7 linked regions of the Homo sapiens genome follow. The protein of the gene in region 6 purifies or fractionates together with the protein of the main gene of each other region. This does not show direct contact. Each region holds a gene or a part of one and is shown on either strand. Other genes may lie near its edges. The genes, in order: PPP6C, IFT172, PJA2, CTR9, ANAPC1, MINDY4 and IFT57.

Evidence for each region.
Region 1: the proteins of MINDY4 (region 6) and PPP6C purify together in Homo sapiens (affinity purification with mass spectrometry, with the first as the bait; one large-scale study listed by BioGRID). This does not show direct contact.
Region 2: the proteins of MINDY4 (region 6) and IFT172 purify together in Homo sapiens (affinity purification with mass spectrometry, with the first as the bait; one large-scale study listed by BioGRID). This does not show direct contact.
Region 3: the proteins of MINDY4 (region 6) and PJA2 purify together in Homo sapiens (affinity purification with mass spectrometry, with the first as the bait; one large-scale study listed by BioGRID). This does not show direct contact.
Region 4: the proteins of MINDY4 (region 6) and CTR9 purify together in Homo sapiens (affinity purification with mass spectrometry, with the first as the bait; one large-scale study listed by BioGRID). This does not show direct contact.
Region 5: the proteins of MINDY4 (region 6) and ANAPC1 purify together in Homo sapiens (affinity purification with mass spectrometry, with the first as the bait; one large-scale study listed by BioGRID). This does not show direct contact.
Region 7: the proteins of MINDY4 (region 6) and IFT57 purify together in Homo sapiens (affinity purification with mass spectrometry, with the first as the bait; one large-scale study listed by BioGRID). This does not show direct contact.

What each region holds. Positions count from the first base shown.
Region 1 is NC_000009.12:125,169,304-125,172,803, reverse strand, and holds part of PPP6C (serine/threonine-protein phosphatase 6 catalytic subunit), read left to right. Parts: intron 1-787; exon of another isoform or gene 788-856; coding exon of another isoform or gene 857-895; intron 896-1,623; coding exon 1,624-1,719; intron 1,720-3,500.
Region 2 is NC_000002.12:27,451,744-27,455,243, forward strand, and holds part of IFT172 (intraflagellar transport protein 172 homolog), read right to left. Parts: intron 2,918-3,500; coding exon 2,824-2,917; intron 2,676-2,823; coding exon 2,611-2,675; intron 2,420-2,610; coding exon 2,239-2,419; intron 1,997-2,238; coding exon 1,887-1,996; intron 1,771-1,886; coding exon 1,641-1,770; intron 1,528-1,640; coding exon of another isoform or gene 1,495-1,527; exon of another isoform or gene 1,394-1,494; intron 1-1,393. UniProt on the Homo sapiens protein: Required for the maintenance and formation of cilia. Plays an indirect role in hedgehog (Hh) signaling, cilia being required for all activity of the hedgehog pathway.
Region 3 is NC_000005.10:109,375,475-109,378,974, reverse strand, and holds part of PJA2 (E3 ubiquitin-protein ligase Praja-2), read left to right. Parts: coding exon 1-771; intron 772-3,500.
Region 4 is NC_000011.10:10,768,246-10,771,745, reverse strand, and holds part of CTR9 (RNA polymerase-associated protein CTR9 homolog), read right to left. Parts: intron 3,404-3,500; coding exon 3,255-3,403; intron 1,537-3,254; coding exon 1,420-1,536; intron 1,260-1,419; coding exon 1,114-1,259; intron 202-1,113; coding exon 130-201; intron 1-129. UniProt on the Homo sapiens protein: Component of the PAF1 complex (PAF1C) which has multiple functions during transcription by RNA polymerase II and is implicated in regulation of development and maintenance of embryonic stem cell pluripotency.
Region 5 is NC_000002.12:111,769,194-111,772,693, forward strand, and holds part of ANAPC1 (anaphase-promoting complex subunit 1), read right to left. Parts: intron 3,283-3,500; coding exon 3,148-3,282; intron 1,942-3,147; exon of another isoform or gene 1,868-1,941; intron 214-1,867; coding exon 98-213; 3' UTR 1-97. UniProt on the Homo sapiens protein: Component of the anaphase promoting complex/cyclosome (APC/C), a cell cycle-regulated E3 ubiquitin ligase that controls progression through mitosis and the G1 phase of the cell cycle.
Region 6 is NC_000007.14:30,886,417-30,889,651, forward strand, and holds part of MINDY4 (probable ubiquitin carboxyl-terminal hydrolase MINDY-4), read left to right. Parts: intron 1-2,683; exon of another isoform or gene 2,684-3,235. UniProt on the Homo sapiens protein: Probable hydrolase that can remove 'Lys-48'-linked conjugated ubiquitin from proteins.
Region 7 is NC_000003.12:108,194,925-108,198,424, reverse strand, and holds part of IFT57 (intraflagellar transport protein 57 homolog), read left to right. Parts: intron 1-3,500. UniProt on the Homo sapiens protein: Required for the formation of cilia. Plays an indirect role in sonic hedgehog signaling, cilia being required for all activity of the hedgehog pathway.

The sequences.
Region 1 (3,500 bases), on a different chromosome or scaffold from region 6:
GATGTTCAGATTTCTTCAGTTTTACTTGTGTTTGTGTGTGTGTGTGTGTGTTTGTGTGTGTGTGTGTGTGTGTGTGTGTGTGTTTGTGTGTATTCAGTTCTTTGCAGTTTTATTGGGTAAGGGCTCATGTATCCAACTCTATAGTCAAAATACAGAACAGGTCCATCATCACAAGAATTCCTCATGTTGCCCTTTTATAGCCACACCCACTTCCTTCCTGCAACTGCTGGACCCCTGACAACAACTAATCCGTTCTCCATTTCTTTAATTTTGTCATTTCAAGAATGTGTAAACACGGCCGAGTGCAGTGGCTCAATGCCTGTAATCCCACCACTTTGGGAGGCCGAAGCGGGCAGATCACCTGAGGTTGGGAGTTTGAGACCAGCCTGACCAACATGGTGAAACTACTAAGAATACAAAAATTAGCTGGGCATGATGGTGTGTGCCTGTAATCCCAGGTACTTGTGAGACTGAGGCAAGGGAATCACTTGAACTGGGAGGCAGTTTGCAGTGAACTGAAATTGTGCTACTGGACTCCAGCCTGGGCAACAGACCAAGACTCTGTCTCAAAAAAAAAGGGAAAAAAAGAAGGTTATATAAATGGAATTATACAGTATATAACCTTTTGGGACAGTTTTCTGTTGTTTCATTTTTTTCACTCAACATAAATGCCTTGAGATGAATCCAGGTTGTTGTGTGGCAGTATTCGTTTCTTTTTATTGCTGAGTAGTATTACATGGTGTGGATGTACCAAAATGTGTTTAACCATTCACTCATTGAAGGATATCTGATTTGTTTTTAGTTTTGGGCTATGATGCATTAGGCTTCTGCGAGTATTTATATACAGATTTTGAACATGTTTTTATTGCCAAGACTACAGTTGCTGGGTCAAATGGTAAGTGTGTGGTTTGCAATTTATTTTTTAAATTACCAGATAAAAATCTTTTACTGGCTGGGCACGGTGGCTGACGCCTGTAATCCCAGCACTTTGGGAGGCTGAGGTGGGTGGATCACCTGAGGTCAGGAGTTCAAGACCAGCCTGGCCAACATGGTAAAACCCTGTGTCTACTAAAAATACAAAAATTAGCCGGGTGTGGTGGCACATGCCTGTAACCCCAGCTACTTGGGAGGCTGAGGCAGGAAAATTGCTTGAATCTGGGAGATGGAGGTAGAAGTGAGCCGAGATCGTGTCACTGCATTTCAGCCTGGGAGACAGAGTGAGACTCCGTTTAAAAAAAAAAAAAACAAAAAAACCCAAAAACCTTTTACTGTTAAAATTATTTCTTCATATATATATATATATATATATATATATATATATATATGTGTGTGTGTGTGTGTGTATATGTGTGTGTGTGTTTGGTGAAAAACATCATTTTACAGTTCTTGTAAAGCTGTCTGTCTCCTAGAACCTTAGTGTCTCTGTAGGTAGTTTGCATTGCATTAAGAATTCTGTGTGACAGCTGACAGAAATCCAACCCCCGAATTATCACAGGGTACTTTCCTATCAAAAAGTATACTTGGGTTTTGTAAGTATTAGACCTGGTATTTTTCTTTTTTGGTATTTTATCTTTAGTTTTAATGTTGTAGTAAATGTTTACCTTTTATTTTCTCTTTTTATAGCGGCTATGTGACTACGTTTGTGACCTCCTCTTAGAAGAGTCAAATGTTCAGCCAGTATCAACACCAGTAACAGTGTGTGGAGATATCCATGGACAGGTAAAATTTCATGAGCAGATTTTTAAGTTTTGTACTGTCCATGATCCATGTGTGTTTTCACATGTGCTGCAAAATTAAAACAACAACAACATCAACAAACACAACTGGTGGTAAGCTAGGTTGCCTCAGTCTCTGTGACACAAATGATTCCTGGTTTACATTTTTGGTGAATAAAAGCAGTGGTCAAATTAGTGATGGAATTTGTTGATAATTACATTTGTGAAGTGAATAATGCAGCATTAGTTTTCTGTGGAATGGTGGGGTTGGGGGTAGGTAGAAGATATAAAGTACAAACACATACTGCTCATAATAACTATGATTAACAGGAGATGTTTTGGTGTTAGGCACTTTTTTCATTCAGTTCATTTCTGTTCTCCTGTCATATATTGTTGAAAATTTATCATTTCTTTAGTGGGAATGAGAATAGCAAAGGTACAGAAAAATAAAATTGTTGGTCCATGATGTCACAGCAAATCACTGATGAATGAGCTAGAAAATATTTAGCTCAATTTTTCATCTGCTGGGTGTTTGTAAGAATTTCAAAGCAGTGCCGGGCGTGGTGGCTCACACCTGTAGTCCCAGCACTTTGGGTGGCTGAGGCGGGTGGATCGTGAGGTCAGGAGTTTGAGACCAGCCTGACCAACATGGTGAAACCCCGTCTCTACTGAAAATACAAAAAAATTAGCTGGGCATGGTGGTGCGTGCCTGTAATCCCAGCTACTCAGGAGGCTGAGGCAGGAGAATCTCTTGAACCCGGGAGGTGAAGGTTGCAGTGAGCCGAGACCGCACCACTGCACTCCAGCCTGGGCAACAGAGCAAGACTCTGTCTAAAAAAAAAAAAAAGAATTTCAAAGCAGTAACAGGAGGGGCATACCTCATATTTAGATTCTGTTGTCAGTGTTTAGTCTCATGTATATTTGTAGAATTTTTTCACTGGGAAATGAAAGCTGAACAGATTACTCATAGAGTGCTATATGCATACAGTGTAGTTGGGGCCATAAGACTTAATAATACATTGCAAACAATGTAGTCTTTAAAGGATGCCAACAGGACTTACTGTCACCTGTGCAATTTCCCTGCTTTAAATATGACTGTGTAAATGAGCAGAAATGTGTGTAAATTGACTCTGATTAGGGGCTGCTCCATGAGTAAAGTCTTGTTTTGGCTACTTACTTACAGGCTGATTTTCTTTTGGTTTTTCAAGGTGTTTTCTGGATTTTTTAGATTATAAAAAAATCTGACACTTGCATGTCATCACCTCCTAGATGGAGGTCCCATTATGTCATCTTTGATTGTTAAAATTACAGTTCTTTAGAGTAGACTTTAGGAATTGATTTCCTAAAATTTCCATGTAACTTCTCTCTCAAACATTTGTATTTTGCTAACATAAAGGATATTAATATAAGCAGTGTCTTAAGACATTCCTGAAAACTGGAATAAACCAAGTCATGTTTTCCCCCAGTGTAGTGTAGAAGTTTCTATGTAACTTCTCTCTCAAAGTAAACATTTGTATTTTGCTAACATAAAGGATATTAATATAAGCAGTGTCTTAACACATTCCTGAAAACTGGAATAAACCAAGTCATGTTTTCCCCCAGTGTAGTGTTTCCCCCAGTTGTAGACTTTTTAAGATGTGAAGTACAGCCATGATCAAAGGTCAGAAAGTTAGAGACCAACCTCGAACTACTAAAATTGGAAGCATAAAATTGAACTTTTGTATTATATATACCTTCAGTCAAATGTGCAGTTCTTGCTAACATATATCTTGTGTTTTGAGGTTA
Region 2 (3,500 bases), on a different chromosome or scaffold from region 6:
CGACAGAGCAAGACTCCGTCTCAAAAAACAAACAAACAAAATAAACAAACAAACAAAAAAACCTCAAAACCTAAGGGAAATTTTGCAGGGGCATCACCATACGAATATGTCATTTAGAGGGCCAATCTCACCCCCCTCATGACCCCCACTCACATTTCACTGTATCTAAGGTGCGTCATTTAAACTATACCTGCATCCCAATTTTAAATATATTAAAATATAATTATATATATGTATGTGTGTGTGTATATATATATATATATATGTTATTGTTAACTTTATGTATCAATTTGGGCTACAGGGTATCCGGGTATTTGGTCAAACATTATTCTGGGTGTTTCTATAAGTGTTTTTGGATGAGGTTAACATTTAAATTGGTAGACTGAGTAAAGCAAATTGCCCTCTCTACTGTGGATAGACCTCATCCAATCATTTCAAGGCATGAACAGAACATAAAGGCTGGCTCCTTCCCAAGTTAGAGAGAATTCTTCCTGTTTGACTGCCTTTAAACTGGGACACTGGCTTTTTCCTGCCTTCAGATTTGAACTGAAACATCAGCTCTTCTTGGGTCTCAAGCTTGCTGGCCTTCAAACAAGAACTACACCATCAGTTCTCCTGGGTTTTCAGTTTGCCAGCTCACCTGCAGATCTTGGGCCTTGTCTATCTCCATAACTGCATGAGCCAATTCCTTTTAATAAATCTCTTTATATACATGTACACACATATACCTACAGTCATGCATTGTCTAATGATCAGTATGTTCTGAGAAATGTGTCCTTAGGGGATTTCATCATTATGTAAGCATCATAGCACAAACCTAGATGGTATAGTCTACTATACACCTAGGTAGAGGTTGCGTAGAGCTTATTGCTCCTAGGCCACAAACCTGTACAGCACATTTCTGTACTGACTACCTATAGGCAACCATAACACAATGGTAAGCATTTGTGTATTGAAACCTATTTAAGGCCAGGCGTGGGATCACCTCAAGGGATCCACCCACCTCAGCTTCCCAAAGTGCTAGAATTATAGGCGTGAGCCACCATGCCCACCCATGTGGTCTACTGTTGACCAAAACGTTGTTATATGGCATATGACTGTATATATCCTGTTGGTTTCTCCAATACAGTATGTCTTATTATTTGTGACACATACTGGCCTGGCTTAATTTGCTGGAAGCTTCTTTTCAGGAAATGTTGGGTGGGGGAGGTGGAGCCCATGCTTTTTTCATGTTCCCTGTCTGGCCAGTTCCTGTGCCTGGAGTTGCCCTTCCAGCTCCTGTCCAAGTCTTCCCTCCTTCTTCACAGAGCCTTCCTGACCCCTCTAGCCCACAGAGATCTCACTGTTCTCTGAACTCTACTTTAAATCATGCACTTTAGTCTTTACTCAGATATGATAGTAATTGAGCCATTTATTGGTCTAATTCCCCTAACTTTTGGCTGTCAGGGCTCTGTCTTATATCCACTTTTATAGCCTTCAGAGGTTCTGGCTCTATCATCCAGCAGGCACTCCATAGATTCCTGCTACCTGATTGAAAAGAAAAAGACACAAGAGGAAAGAGCTGAAGATGTGAGAAGCAGAGCCAAGTGTGAATAGAGGCCTAGGGAGAAGGAGGGCCAGAAAGGGCCTGCTGTCCTCACCTTCATCCAGCACTTCTCCGCCAGGCCGCTGTTTCCAGAGTCTCGCACTTTGAGGTAGCAGTCCACGGCACGGCTGTACTCTCCAGCCTGCTCCCAGTGTCGAGCTTGTTCCACAAATCCCTCCACACCCCTGTGGAGATGAGAGCGCTGGGACTTGGCATGGTAGGGGGGCAGCATGCTCTATCCTGTGTATGCCTCATGACCCTCCCAGCCCTGCCAATGCTGCCTGGACCTCTGGCCTCATACCTGGCCCCCTTCTTAGTAGCTTCCCGCTCATATTCTTCCTGCAGAGCCTCCAGCTGGCTGGGCACATAGTCCTTGCAGATGCGCAGAGCGTCACTCCATAATCCAGCCTCCTGCTCAGATTTCCAGGTATCAAGAGGGCAGAGGCAGGCCTGACAGCTTCCCACTGCCACACAGGTACTCTGGCCCACAGACTCCTGGGTCCTTGGACCTCTCTTCTCCTCCTCTTTCCTGTCTTCCCCACTCCCCAATACTAACCTCCCTGATCTTTCTTCATACCAGGGGTCAGTGTGGCTCTCTGTGGGCTCTTACAAACTCTCCCCCTCCCCTCATGGCCCTGCATCCAGTGCCCCACCTTATAATAATTGAGGGCCAGGCCTGGTCTCTGGGCCCGGAGCAGCAGCCCTTCTGCTTTCTGAAAGTCCTTCTCCTCCAAGGCCCCCCGGGCCTGTCCCACAAGCACCTCGGCGACACTGTCAGGGTCGTGAGCCTCAGCCACACGCTGAGCTGCCTCCCAATCCTGGTTATGGACAAACCTGCCTCCAGGTGGGGACAGAGGAGAGACTGAGTATAGGACTGAGGCCCCAATAGTGGGAGACAAACAGCCATGTCACTGAGGGGTGTAACACTGATTTGTTCTAGGTTTGAATGAAGGTCAAGATAATCATGAAAGATCCTGGGACGGTGACTGGGGAAACAGTATTAAGGAATGTATGGGGTAACTCACATGAGGACTGCCTCCTTGGGTTTACCAGCTCTGATGAATTCAGCTTCAGCCTCTTCGAATTTACCCTACAGGGAGAGAAAGGCAGCCGTGCATGATGAGAAGGAGACTGGCATCACAGGCAGGCATGAGACTGGGGGTCTGCACACCCAGCAGCAGTGCACTAGGGGATGGAATAAGAGGGCTCTGCGGTCGGGGTCCAAATCACACCCATACCTCATCCTCCAGGAACATAGCATATTTGAGATGAACCTCGGGGGTTTTGTGCTTGAGGGCCAGCCGAGAGAGTTCAAACGCAAATTCAAAGGAGCTGAAACAGAAAGTGCAGATAAAGTTTTCTTGCTTCATGCTTCCCTTCATAAAAGGAACAAGACAAAACAGAGAAAGGACAGAGTTGAGGGGAGAAAAAGTGACAGATTTAAGGATAACAAATATGAAGTGACAGAAAAGCGTGGAGAGATAAAAAGGAAGACGGGCAGGCAGCCCTGTGAAGACCATGTCACTGTCAGCGTGGATCAAGAGACGTCTGGAAAAGCCTATGCCTTCCCTGAGGCCAGCTGCTCCTGAGGAATTAGTTTGGGCCTGCGAAGGGGAAGGGAGGAGTGAGCCTCGCAGCCCTACACTGACAGGGCTAGGAGGGCTCCTGGTGCTCTCCATCTCTTCCTGAGCCCCAGCTACATTAGCAGAAACAGAGTCTCTCCAAAAAATGAGCAAGACCACCCTCAGCATCGGACTCCATGATTGGCACTGATAACAGTAGCTTGAGAACACTTTGCTCTTTTGGCTATCTTTCTGCACCGCCGCAATAGTGCGCATGAATGTCCTGGCTGATGTGCTCAAGAGCATCAACAATGCCAGAAAGAGAGGCAAACGGCAGGTCCTTATTAGGCTGT
Region 3 (3,500 bases), on a different chromosome or scaffold from region 6:
TGGCAAACATGGAGAAGATAATGACCATCTTCAACTTTCTGCAGAAGTCGTGGAAGGTAGTAGATACCAGGAATCATTAGGCAATACAGTATTTGAGTTGGAAAACAGAGAGGCAGAGGCATACACTGGTCTTTCACCACCAGTTCCCTCATTTAACTGTGAAGTAAGAGATGAGTTTGAAGAGTTAGATTCTGTACCATTAGTGAAAAGTTCTGCTGGTGATACTGAGTTTGTCCATCAGAATAGCCAGGAAATTCAGAGGTCTTCTCAAGATGAAATGGTTAGTACGAAACAACAAAATAATACTAGCCAGGAAAGACAGACAGAACATTCACCTGAAGATGCAGCCTGTGGTCCAGGGCATATTTGTAGTGAACAAAATACCAATGATAGGGAAAAGAACCATGGAAGTTCTCCTGAACAGGTAGTGAGGCCAAAAGTTAGAAAACTGATAAGTTCAAGCCAGGTGGACCAAGAAACAGGTTTTAATAGGCATGAGGCGAAACAAAGAAGTGTTCAAAGATGGAGAGAGGCTTTGGAAGTTGAGGAAAGTGGCTCAGATGACCTCTTAATAAAATGTGAAGAATATGATGGAGAGCATGACTGTATGTTCTTGGATCCACCATACTCAAGAGTTATTACACAAAGGGAAACAGAAAATAACCAAATGACATCAGAAAGTGGAGCCACAGCAGGAAGGCAAGAGGTGGATAACACCTTTTGGAATGGCTGTGGAGATTATTACCAACTCTATGACAAAGATGAAGATAGGTAAGGTCACATCCAGTACTTTTTCCGATTGTGTAGTAAATGAAGTGGTTTCTTTCTAGAACCATGTTTGATGGCTGGGCTATTTGATATGATCAGGGAATTAGACATTTTGACTTACCAAATATTTTTATTTACTGAATGCTAACCATACATGCAAACTACTCATTAGAATTTTTCACAAAAAAATGTTTTTGAGGTTTTTAGTAGTTTACAGAAGTAAGTTCAGATAATGATTATTATTATAAAGGGATAGAGATGCTAGTTCATGGTATTTCAATTAATAAAATGTAAAATAAACATTTGTTGTATTTTTTAAAAACCTACATTAAGCCAGTCTGGGTTTAAAAAGTGATTAATATCACAAATTATTGATTGGTAATACTTCATTAACATTGCCAGTAGTGACTAATATCACTTGTTTCCCTCTTTATCTGTTCTTCCTGTGGCTCTTCCTATCACTAAGTTTATTTTTTACTTATTTTTTCTTAGCATTCAATTCTCATTAACAACTCTGTGTGGTAGATTCCATTATTTCCCTCATTTGTAAATAAGGAAACTGAGGCACAGAGCATTATATAACTTCCTAAGGTCACAGAGCAACTTAATGGTAGAGCTGGACTTTGAGTACCTAACTGGGTATTCCAGAGACTGTTCACCACTATTCTTTGCTATTTTCAACAGAACATAAAACTTATAATAAGCATTCTGATTGCTCTTACAAACCCGTATCTTTTTTTTCCAAACCATAAGACAACAGAAAAAGAAAAAAATGGAGAATTTCTTTGTTCAGTTGCTGAATTTCCATTACCCCAGTGTCCAGATTTTCATGAGTCCTTGTAAGCTAGTTGCATCCCTGACAGTGCTCAATTACAGTGCAATTGCAAGATTTTATTAGCTAGTGGAAATAATTGTGTGGTTTTTTTTTAGTTAGAAAGTACTATAAAGGAAGAAATTTACCATTTTGAATATGAATGCATTTTAATTCATGTCATAAAACAATTCATTTGATTTTCTTTGGACATATGAATTAAGCTACTATAATACAGATTGTGTAATTTATTATAGAAAATATTTAAAATATAATTTCTGCTGCTCTGTCAAAGTCTGTAAACTTTAAGGGTTAGTAAGTAATTTTTGTATGATATACTGTTTTTAAGCTAAAGGTAAAGTTTTTTTCAGTTCAAGCCCACAGTGTTTTATTCAGTATCCACACTTCTAAAAACAGAAATTGGCCACAAAGCCTGACCTGATGTTAACTTCCTGGATAAGCAGATCTGGATCTGAATTGAAATGAGGGTATTTTTTCAAATATTTGTATATTTTACTGCAGAAATATAGTTATGTTTGATTACTGTGTGTGGCCTGGACCATGTTGGGGTTTGTTAAGTAGTAGTTCTAAATCTGGGAAATATATATCAAAATTCCAAAACACATTTAGCCCTAAGATTTTGAAATAGATTGCAAGTCTCTAATATTATACCTCTAGGTTACTATTTTTAAAAAAAGACAAAACTTACAGTCTTTGATAATTTATTTTTTTGAAAGTGTAAGGTGCTTGTATTTTTTTTCCCCCAGTTACACTTTTTCTTCTTTAAGGAGAATCATTTAATTTGGCTATACCTTTGTCATTTTGGGCAAAATAAATACTTCTCTTCTGCTTGCTTTTTATAGTCAGTTATAATGTCTTATGATGAAGTTGATGAAATTGTTACATTGTTTGCCAACCCCTAGAGAAAGGTAGTCTTCCTGGCTCCTTGATTTTAAATTGATTTTCTTTGTTTTGGGGGTGGTCAGTGGTGGAAGTGTATTCTTTGCCTTGAAGGACCCTGGACTTTTCATAGTTATAAGGTATTTTCTTAGTTATTTGTAATTCTTATTCTTATTTTTAATTTTTTTCTTAAGTGATGTCAATATTCTGAACAATGATAGTTTTTTTTTTTTTTTTTTACAAACAATATATAGATGGGAAAAAACATTTACAGTTAATAGAAACTGTCCTTTTAAATTGCTAGTAATGTATTGACTACAGAGCCTGTGGTTAGGGTATGCCAAAATGATGGAACTACTTTAGGATCATTGTTTAAGACACATTGAAATGCTTAAAAGTTTCTTGTTTCGTTTTGTTTTAAAGAATCATAGAATAAATTCTAAAGGATAATGGTTCTGCCTAGGACTGTACTTATATTTTTATCCATAGCCTTAAGATATGTTTTACGATCTCAAAGTGTCTGTACAGTTTTCTGTACAGATTATTCTATTTCTGAACAGAAACTCTGTTTCTATGCTGCTGTGTCCTGTTCCTCTACCCTAATTCCCTGCAAAGGATTATAGTTGCCAGGGTGCCTTTTTAATATGGTGCCAGCTAAAGGTTGGAATTTAATAGCTGTACACTCCTATTTAGTTTCATTTTGCCCTTGTTCATCTCCCTGATGTTTCATTGTCATCCTCCCTAGTTCTTGTATTTGTAGATTGGAGAGATGGTGATGCTAGTCTTCTCAGGTTTTGGATGGAAAGTATAAGAGCTGCTGCTTAATTTGGGCCTGTGAACTTTGAGTTTTTTTGTAAAGCTTAAAAAGTTGATATACTTGAAAAGTTTTTTTTTGTCATGCTTATAATAGCCAAAGTAGAACTCATCAAGAATATAACTAAAGTTCATTGTGGCATTTTTATTTTTTTATTTTTTATTTATTTATTTCGAGACAGAGTTTCTCTCTGTTGCCCAGGCTGGA
Region 4 (3,500 bases), on a different chromosome or scaffold from region 6:
CCCCAAGAGAAGTGTGAAAGACTGACCTGTGGAAGGTCAGGAACCTCTGTTCCCTACTGTGGCACTTTCCCAGCCCATGTAAATATCACTGCCTCACCCAAAGTCACCTTCCATAAATAGTAACATTACCTGGCTTCTGTAGCAGCAAGGGCCAAATCAAATCTCATTTTATCTCCCACTTTACTCAAATAACTGAAGTATCTAAATGAAACGAGAAAATACTTCACTTTTAAAAAAAGAGATTCTAATGAAATAAAGCTCTTAAAAAATTTAATCTGTGCTACAAAGTCTGAGAAAAGGTTTGCATATTGACTGATTTACACAAATTTATGCCACTCATTACATTTAATAGACACGTTCATCAAGATGGTCTAAGTTATATTTAATATTATCAGTAAATTCACAAATAACCACAAAGCAATTCAAGCAACAAGTATTTACTAAACATGAAATTTACTAAATATGTCAGGATGGAGGTTACGGGGCTCAGGCCATGAAAGCACTTATAATTTACCAGGCAAGGCAAGAATTGTTAAACAAGAATAAAAATATTAAGTTGGACAAAACCTGAAGAGATGACAGGTTTTAATTTCACCACACACTGACTCACCATATAAATACTATATGGCTAAATAAATTTTGAGCTGAACTGAATAAAACTATTAAGCATTATTTAAGAAGTAAAACCTTAATCCTAGTTCAATGAAAATCAACATCCCATTAAAAGACACATTGGTGTAAAATGGAAGACCAACGTAAGTGTCCAAAAAATTTCACATGTGTAAAATGCTGGGTCACATTACTGTCAGATTAATAAAAAATCTATGGCAAGTTTGCAAAGCTAGCCAGCCAGTTCTAGAGGTCAAGCTACAAGATCCAAATCTGGCAGGATCCTGACTATAGTTTGGCACCACCTGGTGGCAGCTGCTATCTGCTTTGGCTTAACTATTGCTGGAATGATTCTAATAGACCACCTTTAGAAGGAAGTGATTTTCAGCAGCTTGAGACAAATAGCTTTAAACAAAGCATTTCAGACAAAATCGGGAGAGTTCAAGATGGTATGGTCATAGACCAAATAAAGCATTTCATAGGTTGTTTCTACAAAATCTTTACCTATGTGCAAGCTCCAGTTCTTTCACAGCATTAAGTACTTCCTTCAGATTACTTTTTTCATCTTTCAGGACAGAGGTAGCTAATCTTTGCAGGACCAAGGCCACATTAAACATAAGAACTGTATCACTGGGTGCCACATGTCTAGCCTGTGAATAAAAAATAAATATTTCATATGTTCAAATGACATGAAAAGGATCTTAGACAGCAGAGTATTATTAAGTAGTAGGTATGTGAACACGCATCACGAAGAATTAAAAAATACAATGTAGCACAGAAATGGATGGGAATAACATCTCTCCTTTTTACCTTCAGCAAAGTCTGTTTGCATTCCTGTAACTTGCCACACTTGAAGAGGGCCCGGGCCAAATAGAGTACAACTTCAGTGTTTTGGTGCTTATAGAACTTTCGGAGGCAGTTTTCATACTACAGTAAAAGAAAAAAGTTAATTAAAACACAACAAAGAATAAATGACATTTTCATTTTGTAGCAAAATGGCATTGCAATTTTAAAGCTCTGTAAAAAGGTGTTTTACCCTTTGAATGGTTAATTTCAGAGAATAATTTGGGGAATGATTTTTGACATTCATCAGGATACATTTTCACAACATAAAAAATCTGACCATTAGAAAAACTAGATGCTTGAAATGGTTTCTTTCCATTTGAAATTTGGACCAACATTGAAAGAAAGGGTAAACAGACTGGAAAGCCTTTTTCATACTTTTAGCAATACTATCTAGAATCAGCTTATTGACCACTGATGAGAAGTCATACACCGTTGTCCTTTGCGTTTTACCATCTACACCTTTCTTAACAATGGGCAGAACCTACTGGCAATGAGCATGAGGAGTCTTACAGTTCTGGTTGTTAACTTCTTGGTAAAACCAATACAATACTAGTGTTAATTGTGACATGAACATAGCACTTTTTGACCATGGAATACCTCTTGTCATAGGTAAGACCTTTTTCATGAAAAATGGTTAAGACCATTTTTTCCTGAATATCCCTAGTAGTTAATTTGCATTTATAAAAGACAACATTATCATTCAGCAGATCAGGAAGGCCAGCCTCACAAAACACAACCTCTGAAGCTCCATATGCAATCTAGGTTCTGTGAGTTTCTGTGATTATTGACTTTCCAGTACTCTGAATATTGGTAATAACCCACCCATTTTAGAAAAAGGTAAACCACTTCTCAGGAGCCTGGACTGCTCTTTTTGTCTACTTTTTGTAAGCTTTTCCTTTCTGACCATAATATATCCCACAGAGCCGAAGATCCTTTTTACTTTTTAATTTTATGGATGCTGAGTATGACTTTTATTTCGAGCTCAAGCACTCAACAAATGTAAGCATAAAAAAATTCTACAGTCATTAAATCTTATCGCTGTTTTGTTTTCTTTTTTCTTTTTTTTCCCGAGACAGAGTCTGGCTTTGTCGCCCAGGCTAGAGTGCAGTGGCAGGATCTTGGCTTACTGCAACCTCTGCCTCCCAGGTTCAAGCAATTCTCCTGTTTCAGCTTCCTGAGTAAGCTGGGATTACAGGCACGTGCTACCATGCCCAGCTAATTTTTGTATTTTTAGTAGAGACAGGGTTTCACCATGTTGGCCAGGCTGGTCTCGAACTCCTGACCTCGTGATCCATCCGCCTCAGCCGCCTCAGCCTCCCAAAGTGCTGGGATTACAGGAGTAAGCCACCATGCCTGGCCTGTTTTCTTTTAAATAAGTCATTTAACCTTTCTAAAACTCACAGTTCAGTTTCAGAAACTGAATACACAAATAAATATTCAATCCTACTACTTACTGGGTATTACTAATATGCTAGGCATGCTAGTGCCAAGTAGTTTTCATACGGGATCCTCACAAAATTCTATGAAGTTAAGGTACAATTATCTCCATTTTATAGATAGGAAAACTGGCTCAGAAAGGATGTCCTTTGCCTGAGGCATGTAATTAGTGGTGGAACCAGGACTCACATCTCTGTCTGGATACCAAAGCCTGGCCTTAGCATTATATAATTATAAATCTCTAAATAGACACAGTATCACAAGAGATAGCATGCAGCTCCATGACAGGGCCAGAATGGCTAAGAAAACATCTGCTTAACAATGAACAAGATATAAAAATATCTTGAAAGAGAAGCTATTACCATCTGAACGGCGCTGATGTACTGCTTTTGCTCCACATAGATGTGTGCTAAGTTCAGCCACACATCACTAATATCTGCTGTTGCTTCTCTTACTTGGGCAAATACATCACGAGCTTCACGAAAATATCCTTTGTGGGCCAAAACAGCTCCTAAAGATATAAAAAGGTTCACACTTAACAATTTTCTAATTGGAGTCAGAAAAACAACTAAAAATTCTATTTTAAAACAACTACATTGATCACATTT
Region 5 (3,500 bases), on a different chromosome or scaffold from region 6:
TACCATAAAACTTTATAAACATTGCTTTAGCTTTGATGTTTGGTCACGTTTGTTGTGCAGAAGTCACGTTTCAGGGTAGGTTCACCGCCAGACACGGTCACATCACCATTGGCTGTGGATTTCCAAGAAGCAAAGGAGCCAATCTCAGCAAAGCTCGCACTGGCATTTTTAGCTGCTTAAATTTGAAGAGCAGTTCAGCAAAGCTTGTGCTCCCTAAAATGGAAATGGGGTGGGAAGGTCACATCTCTAAATAAATTCAGCCATACCTCTCCTTTCAAGGAAGCTTCAGAAACACAATCATGTTTAAAACAGGCATTTTTCCCTTTGAAAATGACTATGCAAAGACAATATTTAAAATTATGAAATTCCTTAATACACTGTAATGTAAATTGAGTATCCCTTTTCCAAAATGCTTCTGAAGAGAGGTGTTTTGGATTCTGGATTTTTTTAGATTTTGGAATATCTGCATTACACCTACTGGCTTTCTTTTTTTTTTTTTTTTTTTGGAGACGAAGTCTCACTTTGCCACCGGGGCTGGAGTGCAGTGGCGCTCTCTCGGCTCACTGCAAACTCCACCTCCTGGGTTCACCCATTCTCCTGCCTCAGCCCCCCGAGTAGCTGGGACTACAGGTGCCCACCACCACGCCCAGCTAATTTTTTTTGTATTTTTAGTAGAGATGGGGTTTCAACGTGTTAGCCAGGATGGTCTCGATCTCCTGACCTCGTGATCCGCCCGCCTCGGCCTCCCAAAGTGCTGGGATTACAGGCGTGAGCCACTGCGCCCAGCCTCGGCTGAGCATTCTTAATCCAAAAATCCCAAATCCAAAATGCTGTAATGAACATTTCCTCTGAGCATCATGTTGGTGCTCAAAACGTTTTCGATTTCAAACACTTCAGATTTCAGATTAAGGATACTCAAACCTGTATATGATTTGATAGAATTTACCCATTCTAGACTTCAGAAAGTGACCTATAACTACATGTGAAACTACTAATATTGTTTAATTTTATATATATATATATATATATATATATAAATTCTTTAAATATAATGTGCAAAAGTGCCTGTCTACCTTCAAATACTATCTAAGTGGTATTTTACTGGTTCTAATACAGTTGACCATTGAACAACCCTGTTTGTCCAGCCTGGCCTGAAAAGAAGTCTATACTTTTAAAATGTCTTCCTTTTCCTTTTAGTAGTTTGACTATTAATGTGACTAGGTATGGTTTTCTTTGTATTTATCCTGCTTAGGGTTCACTGTGGGTTAATATTTAACACAATTTTTCAAAATTCTTAGCTTCTGTCTCTTCAAATATTGCTTCTAACTCATTTTTTCTCTCCTCTTATTCTCTTATTCCAACCCCATGCATGTTTATTTTTTTTTCACGGTTTCCACATGTCTCTTGTACTCTTCTCTGTATTTCCTAACCATTCTTCCCTCTGTGCTTCAGTTTGTTTACTTTCTACTTGTCTTCCAGCAGATAAGTGTCTTCCAGTTCACTTCAAATAATCCAGTACTGAGATCTTCATTTCAGTTACTATATTTTTCAGTTCTAGAATTTCCATTTAACTCTTTTTTATTGACCCCAGGTTTCTGGTGAAATTCCCTATCATTCCTTCTATTTTCCTGGAAACATTAGACATAGTTATTTTAAGTTCCAGTATGATAACTCCAATATCTGAATCACACATAAGTCTGTTTCTATTATCTGTTTTTTTATTATTATTATGTTTCGTAATTTTTGATTCAACACTGAATCCTGTAGACTAAAAATTGCGGGGGCTCTGGGTATGTTTTCTTTCTCCTATGAAGGTTACATTTTCTTCTGTCAGGTGGGGAGAAAGCACACAGATCACCTTAGTTCTGCTCTAGGCTAATTGTAGGTCAAGTCTGCTTGGAGTGAAACTGAAGCAGACCAGATCTAAAATTAGGCTAGAGCAGGCTTAGGGCTTGGCCATGTATTAATTCACCTGAGGAGCTGGGATGCTGATCAGAGCCACTTCACTTTAACAAGCGTTGAATTCCACCCTTTGTCTCCTCAGTCCTATGCTGCTGCTGACATTTTTGCTTACATTTTTGGCCTTGTGGCTTCTGCTAGATCTCTTGAAGTCTTATCCCATGTATATGAAGGCTAAAATATCATTAAGTAACTCAAGGGAAAGGTATATCCAGAGTCTGAGTTATGATTTCTATTGTTCTCTCCTGCCTGAGACTGTGTTCCTCAAGTTCTAGGCTCTTGGGCAATCACAAACCCAACCTCTGGCTCCTCAGCCCTGCAGCATTGCTGCTTTTTGCTGGCACTCTACTTCTTGTACTATGAACTGGCAAATGCCTTTGGGGGAGAAGCTAGGGTGAATATAAAGCTCTCCCTGTTGTACTTCCCTTTTCTTATTTTTTTTTTTTAGCTTTTATATTTGTTTTTGAGGGCAAGTGAGTCCAATACAAGCAATTCCATCATGGCCATAACCAGAAGTCTCTAGATAGTAAACTTTTATCAGAGGCTTGCAAAACAGCAAAAAACTAGTAATGTAATTAAACTTCAAGTTTAAATGATTAAATGGAACAATCTTTGCCCTTATCAAAAAATATTTTTTTTGAGAATCTCAAAAAAATTGGGTGCTTAGAATTCATCATATCTTAGTATTCAGCTTAATGGATAAATTTTTTTTATCTGTTTCTATATTCTGAAAAATACAATCAGGTGATAATACTATTAATTTTTAAAACTATTATAAAAAAATTCAAACACAAAATTAGGTATTTATTAGTTGTAAAGCTTTGTAATATTAGAAATTAAGATTATATGTGATTCTAAAAAACCCAACTGAAAACCTAGAAAATAAAGAAAAATAGCTTTAATAAAAAAATCAATTAGTAAAGAATAATATGGAATATTTAGTTTATTAGTATAGATCAGTGTTTGGGGCTCTGTGAAGAAGAATCCATCCTTTTCTGAATAAAAATGAAAGTTATTCATATATAAAGTTGATAATTTTTTCTTTTTTGCTCCAAAACAGTCCCTAACAATGACACTGCAACATTAATGAAGAGGAAAGTCAAACTAGGGGCAGTAACTACTGAGAAACTAGAACATAAAGGGGTAGGTAACAGAGTTACTGAAGATAAGACTTAGATATGCAATTACCTTCTAGTCCTATAGGTGGCAGGTGCTGTGGAGCTGGCACAGAGTGGTAGACGAGGAAGCAGGCCAGCATGCTCAGCTGTGATTCCTCCAAGGGCTGCCCGCTGAGGTAGGCGTGCACACACATATCACCCCCGACTGTGAGAGAAACAAATGGAACGGAACCAACTGATGACAGAACTGAGAGGCACAAGAAATATCTTCTATTACTTTTTCATCAAGAACTTATTGAACGCTCAGCATATATAAAGCAGGTTCTATAGCCGGTATTGAGGCTACTCTGACAAGCTAGACTGAGTCCCTGTCATTGTAGAGTTTAGAGTGTTGTTGGGGGAGACAGATATTACACAAATAAT
Region 6 (3,235 bases):
CCTGCAAGAACCCCCAAGCCACACAGCTGGCTGTCTGGCAGCTTGCTTGGCTCTACAGAAAGGCCTTTGGGCACCCCCTGTTATCACCTCTTCTTTTACAGACAGGGAGATGGGGGCCTCCAGAATGGAGGTCCGTGTCCCAGCCACACTTTGAGTCACAAGCTCCAAGGACTGTGGCTTACGCTTTTGCTGTCCCAGCCCATTGGAAGGTCACTTAGTGGGCAGTGACTTCCCACCACCTGGCTTTGTTGCCTCGGTGACATTGCACAAGCCCAGACTGCTGGTTTCGCCTTCAGAGAAGAGCATCCTAATTCAAACCATCCCAGACCCCATGTGTCTCTGCGCTTTGCTGTGACGCAAACCTCGGCCTGAGAGAGTCTCCTGTTACCTTTGCTTGTGTCAGGAATGTGGGATCTGTCCCCTGCCCCCTCCCACTGTTATACTGTAACCATCTCAGCAAAAAAACAGGCTAATTTATTATGGTCATTTCCAAACGAGACACACACAGTGACCTCTCTCATGCTTCCAGCCTGGCTAGAGTGAGAAAAATGAAACGGTTGTCAACAGTCCAGAGAAAAGAGGAAAGAACTCATAACCGGAGCCTGGGGCTGGGGCACAGATGTTTCTGTTCGGAGGTGCAGACAAGAAATTGAAAATGTAATTCCAGCTGGGTATGATGCCTTCGAGGGGCAGAGGCAGAGCCCCCGCCTCCCTCAGCTACCCCCACTCCCTGCGGAACCTCCCGTTCAGCTTCCATGCTGACCATTTTGCCCAGGCTCCCTGTCCACAGTGCCTCCCACCCATCGGAGGAGCATTCTCTGGGCGCTGTCACTCCCCACTGTCCATGCCAGCCCTCTTCTGATGCCCTGCCCCCCACACACACCTGCCCTGTGCTGGCTCTGCAGTCATCAAGCTGTGTGAGCTCCAGAAGGTCTGGTTCTGCTCCCAGCCTTAGTTTCCCCATCTGTCCCTGGGGTCTAAGGATCCCTCTCCTGAGCTGCTGTGAGGTTGAGAGAAGAGCTGTGGAAGCACTGCCTTTCCTGTGAGCCACAATGGCCTCTGGGCATGCGTTGGGGAGGAGGAGGAATCAGGTGGTGGCAAGTTGGGCCAGGGCTCAGGAGCAGGCAGAGAGGAGAGTGCAAGGCAGGGCTTTGAAGCGTGAGCCAGCGAGGACCATGGTTTCCCTGCTGAGTGCCTGGGAGGGCGGGGCCACTCCCTAAGCAGGCGTCCAGGAGGAACAGCTGGCCTGGTGGGGGTCGTGTTCATGCAGCAGCACCCCCACCTGCCACCTCCACCTGGAGCCCAGGCTGCAGGCACTGGTTAAACCAGCTTTGCCTTGGAGCCTGGCCTGGGTGCTGACGGGGACCCGCGGGTGGCAGTCAGAGAACACTTCTGCAAAGAGGAATCTGGATCTGATCCTGCAGGATGGCGGACTGGGCAGGGCCCAGCAGGGGTTAAGGCCCAGGGGTGAGGGATACCCACGTGGCTCATCCTAGAGCTGCTCCTCATTCCGAATGGCTGGAGCACGGGAACGGAAACTTTCACACAGGCCTATTTGTCTGGAGATTTAAAGCATACAAGAGGCGTCCCTGGATGCTTTTCTACCAGTCAGGAGCTTTGAACTCAGGCCTGCTGTCTTGTCCTGGCTGACACAGGCTCTATCAGGCACCTTTTTCCCCATGAAAAACACTGGGTCCATCAACGTTGAAAAGCAGTTAAGGCAGGTAACCACCCCTCTGTTGCAGTGATGCCTCTGGGGGGACAGGGCCTTATTTTCCACCATGAAGTGCCTTTCTCTGTGATTTTAAGTTGACTTGAGCACCAGGGACCATGGTGTTTTTACGGAGCGAGTGGTCTCAACGGGACAATTGTGTGCCCCTGGGGTTATTTGCCAATGTCTGAGGACATTTTTAGTTGTCACAGCCCTGGGAGAGGATGCTAAACATTTCATAATGCACACCACGGTCTCCACAACAAAGAATTACCCAGCCAAAATGCCTTAGGTACCGAGGATGAGAGACCCGGCTATAAACTGGCTGGCTGTCAGCCGCCTCCTGCATTAGCACTGATGAATGAGTCTGGAACTTTGATTGTGTCTCTTCTGCTCCTCAGAGGTGTTTCCATTTCATCCCTCCCCTTTCTGTGCCTGTCCGCAGTTGTTGGTTGCATATGCAGAGCCCTTCTTACTTGTCCTTGTAATCGACTCACAAGCTTTCAGAACCATTCCAATCGGGGAACGATTCGATTCGTCCCCTACACTAGCACAACATGCGTCATGGCTCAGCCCTTTCAATTTTTAAAATGTCTCTGCTTTGATTTTCTATTGTAATTGCAAACTGCTTCCCTCTGGTGTTTCCAGTACTCTCCCTGCATTTGCCCCTGTTGGCTGGATGGAGCGGGTTGGTTATGTCTGTAGAAAGCCTCAAAACCAAGCTCAAACTCAACAGCCTGATAGTAAGACTCAGCCACTGTGGTGACACAGATGTTGTCTAGTGGTAGATGAGTGTGACTCACCCCTGCACTGAAGCAGCTTGCCAGGATTCAAGGAATTTGTAACTTGGGAGCTCATACGAGGTACTTCAGTCTTTCTGAGTGGGGAGGGTAAAGGCTTGAAAAGATAGAGAGGGGCGGGGTGAAGGGGCCTGGGGACCAGGCTGAGAGCAGGCATGTTGCTCTCCTTCCTGCCTCCCTTCTGCCACCCTCTGGGAGTCTGGATTCAGGATGTGTTCCTTAGTGTCCAAGATTTCAATGCTTGCCCACAAATCTTAATAGAACAATAAAAGCTTTTTAATGACACACTCCAAACTGCAAAGATGATGAACAGAACAAGAAAATTGAAAATCTCAAATGCTCATCGTGTTGCTGCAGATTGCTAAGGTGCTTTTAACCCAGCAGATGTAATAGATGAACTCAGTACCCAGGAGCTGGGGTCAGCACAATGCCTTCCCAGCCTGCTTACCTCCAGAACCTGCTCAGTTGTATAAGCCAGAGCAGTGGCCATTTTCCTGCTGGTTGGACCTATATTAGCCAGTATAGGACATCATCAGACTCCACCCCCAAATAGTATCAGCAATGGGCACTCACTGCCGAGGAGAAGTCTGACTTCACCAAGCCAAGCCAGTTTGTCTCCAAATACGGCACCAGTGTCTCTTATTTGAGCAGTGAAGATGAACGCTCTGATATGGATAAATTCCATCAAAGTGGCTCAACCCCAAAACCCAATAGACTCCTCTGG
Region 7 (3,500 bases), on a different chromosome or scaffold from region 6:
CCAAACATGAGGAGTGACAAGTGTTATAGTTTGAAGTAGGCATAATTAAGCATGACAAGAAAATCAAAAACATAAAATACAAATCTGAATGCATAAAAATTAAAACTTTATATTACAAGAAAGCAGAGTGGGGAACACCGTTAAGTTAAAATACAAGTGATGAACTGGAGAAAAATAATTATAGCCTATGTGCAAAGGGTTGATAGACATGTGCTAAGGTGTTTTAGAGCTTGTGCTCTAGAGTAACACTGCCTGACCTACCAATCACAAGATGTGACATTGAAAAAGTCATGTAACTATTCTGTGCCTCAGTTTCCTCACTTTAAAAGATGGTAATAAGACTCCCTGTTTCATGGTGTTATTATTGGGCATTTAACCCATATGTAAAAGCATCTAGTACCGTGTTTGGCATGTAATAGTAATGATAATAACTGCTAAAATATACCAGGGGTTAATATGTATTATACACTGTGCAAGCCTTTTAAATACATTGTCTCATTTAATGCTCACAGCAACCCTTCCAATGAGGAAGGTGCTGTTATTCTCATTTTACAGATGGGTACTCCGAGATTTAGAGAGGTTATGTAACTTGACCAACAGCTAGTAAGTCATGGAGGTGGGATTTGAGCAAAGATGTGATTCCAGACCCATCCTCTTAACATTTACACCATGCTGTTGTGACTCTTAAGACAACTTAGTTCCCTTTTCCTTGAGTCTTGGGAGTATTTAATCTTGAGAGTTAATTGGACTTTTAACACCCTCTCAGTAGGTATATGATATAAGCTCTTCAAATGAATCTGGACACTAGTATATCCATGAAGTTGCCATCTCATGTATATTTTTACAGAACATAGCCTTTCTTTGATGCTTGACCAAAGATTACTGGAACAGGATTCTAAGTAGGCTTTTAACACTGTATGTTTGATTCTTGAACTGACTTCGATGGTGTGCCCCACTGTTTGAGCCCAAGGTTACTTTATGGGATAGTGTAGACTGTTATTTTCAGTTCTTCCTTTGGCAGTTAGGATCAGTTCCCATCTCATCAGTTTCTCCTTTTACCTAGGACCAATTATTACTCCCATTAACTGGCCTCAGACTTTTCCTAGTAGTCTGCAAACTCTGCAGGCAGCATTTAAATCCTTTTAGCTTTCCACACCAAGCACAGTGCCTGAATTCTTACCTTGAATGTTGTAGGAGTTTAACAAATGGCTTATTAATTTAATTAATTATAAATGAGACTTCTAGATAACTTGTGTCTTATGAGCTTCTAATTGTTTCTTCTGCAGCAGTAACTGGAAAATGGAATTTCCCAAAAGCAATGCTTTATATTAGTTAATGTGTTAGAGAGGGACTTTGTCATGATGATATAAAATTTTGATTAAATGAAAAGCAGTTTATTTCTCTTGTACAAGTGACCCACATAAAGTACCATTTATGAAATGGAAAAACAATTGGGAAGAAAAATTTTCTCAAAGTATTATAACCAAGGCACAGTATAGTTTTAAAATGATTTATACTTTATATATAGGGCTTGCTCAGTTAATGTATCAAGTTATTAGGCATTAAGAAATGTTGAGTGAGGAATGAGGTTATGAAATAGATATGCAAACATGGATGTAGAAAGAAACTGTATAGTTTGAATAAGTTAATGCTGCTCTGCCAAACCTAATGTTCTCTTTTTGCCCTTTATTCACTTAGCAACTGGGCCATTTCCCCTAGTATATTAATTATGGCCTACGAGTGAGTGAAAATTTTTGAGCTCCTATGTTAAATCATTTTAGAACATTGGGAGTGGGAGTTAGCAAATCGTTGCTTAAGGGAACCAAATAATAAGCTAGTAAAGGTAAATGCAACTTACTAAAGGGCCCAACATAAAAACAAATAGCTTATGCAGTGGCATATCTTAATGCAGTGTTTGATCTTTATGTACCCTGCTGCCTCAGATTCTAGGTCTAGTTCAAATGGCCACTGCAAACCCATCTGCCTTTATGAAAAATGCCCTTCCTTCAGTAAAACATTTTGAGTATGTTATTCACAACTTGAACAATCCTACATCCAGGCCTGAAGAAAGTGGTAGTATGGACGGGTGTGCGCCCTTGTCTTGTTTGGTGATTCTGAACTTCAATCTTGTAAGGAGGGAAAGAAAGAGGGGTTGGAAATGAGGGTGGAAATGAGGGTTGGAGAGCACTGGCTTTGGGATTTAATCAACAGCATCTAGCTTCAGTTCACCCAAATGGTACTCCATAAATCAAACTTATTTTTATATATTTTTTATTTTTTTATCTTTAGTTATTATGAACACATAGTGCATATTTATGGGGTGTATGTGATATTTTGATACAAGGCATACAATGCGTAATGATCAGATCAGGGTAATTGGGCTATCAATCACCTCAAGCATTTATCATTTCTTTGTGTTAAGAACATTCCCGTTCCACATTTTTAGGTATTTTGAAATATATAATACATTACCGTTAATTATAGTTGCCCTATTGTGCTACCGAACACTAGGTCTTATTTTTTCTATATAACTAATGCAGTTTTAAATAACTATATTTTCATACCCAATAACCATTCACTTTTTATCCCTCCTCCCCGCTACCATTCTCAATCTCTGGTAACCATCATTCTACTCTCTACCTCCATGAAATCTACTTATTTTTACCTCCCACATATGAGTGAGAACATGTGATATTTGTCTTACTGTTCCTGGCATATTTCATTTAACATAATGACCTCCAATTCCATCCATGTTGCTACAAATGACAAAATTTCATTCTTTTTATGGCTAAATAATATCCCATTGTGTATATATACCTTGTTTTCTTTATCCATTCATCCCTTGATCAACACTTAGGTTGATTCCCTATCTCGGCTATTGTGGATAGTGCTGCAGTAAACATGCGAATGCAGATTTCTCTTTAACATACTGATTTCCTTCCTTTTGGGTATATGCTCCGCAGCAGCATTGCTAGATTATATGATAGATTTTTAGTTTTTTGAGGAACCTCCAAAGTGTTCTCCATAGTGACTGTATTAATTTACTTTCCCACCAACACTATACAAGTGTTCCCCTTTCTCCATATCCTTGCCAGCATTTGTTATTGCCTGTCTTTTTGATAAAACCATTTTAACTGAGGTAAAATGGTATCTTGTGGTTTTGGTTCGCATTTCTCTGGTGATTAGTAATGATTAGTGATCATTTTTTCGTATAATTGCTGGCCATTTGTATGACTTGTTTTGAGAAATGTCTCTTTTTGATCTTTTGCCTATTTTTTAATTAGATCATTTGGGTTTTTTTCCTACTGAGTTGTTTGAACTTCTTATATATTCTGATTGTTAATCCCCTTTCAGATGGGTAGTTTGCAAATATTTTCTCCCATTCTGTGGGTTGTCTCTTCATTTTGTTGATTGCTTCCTTTTCTGTGCAGAAGCTTTTTAGCTTGACATGATCCCATTTGTCCATTTTTGCTTTGTCTATCTGTGCTTTTGAGGTCTTA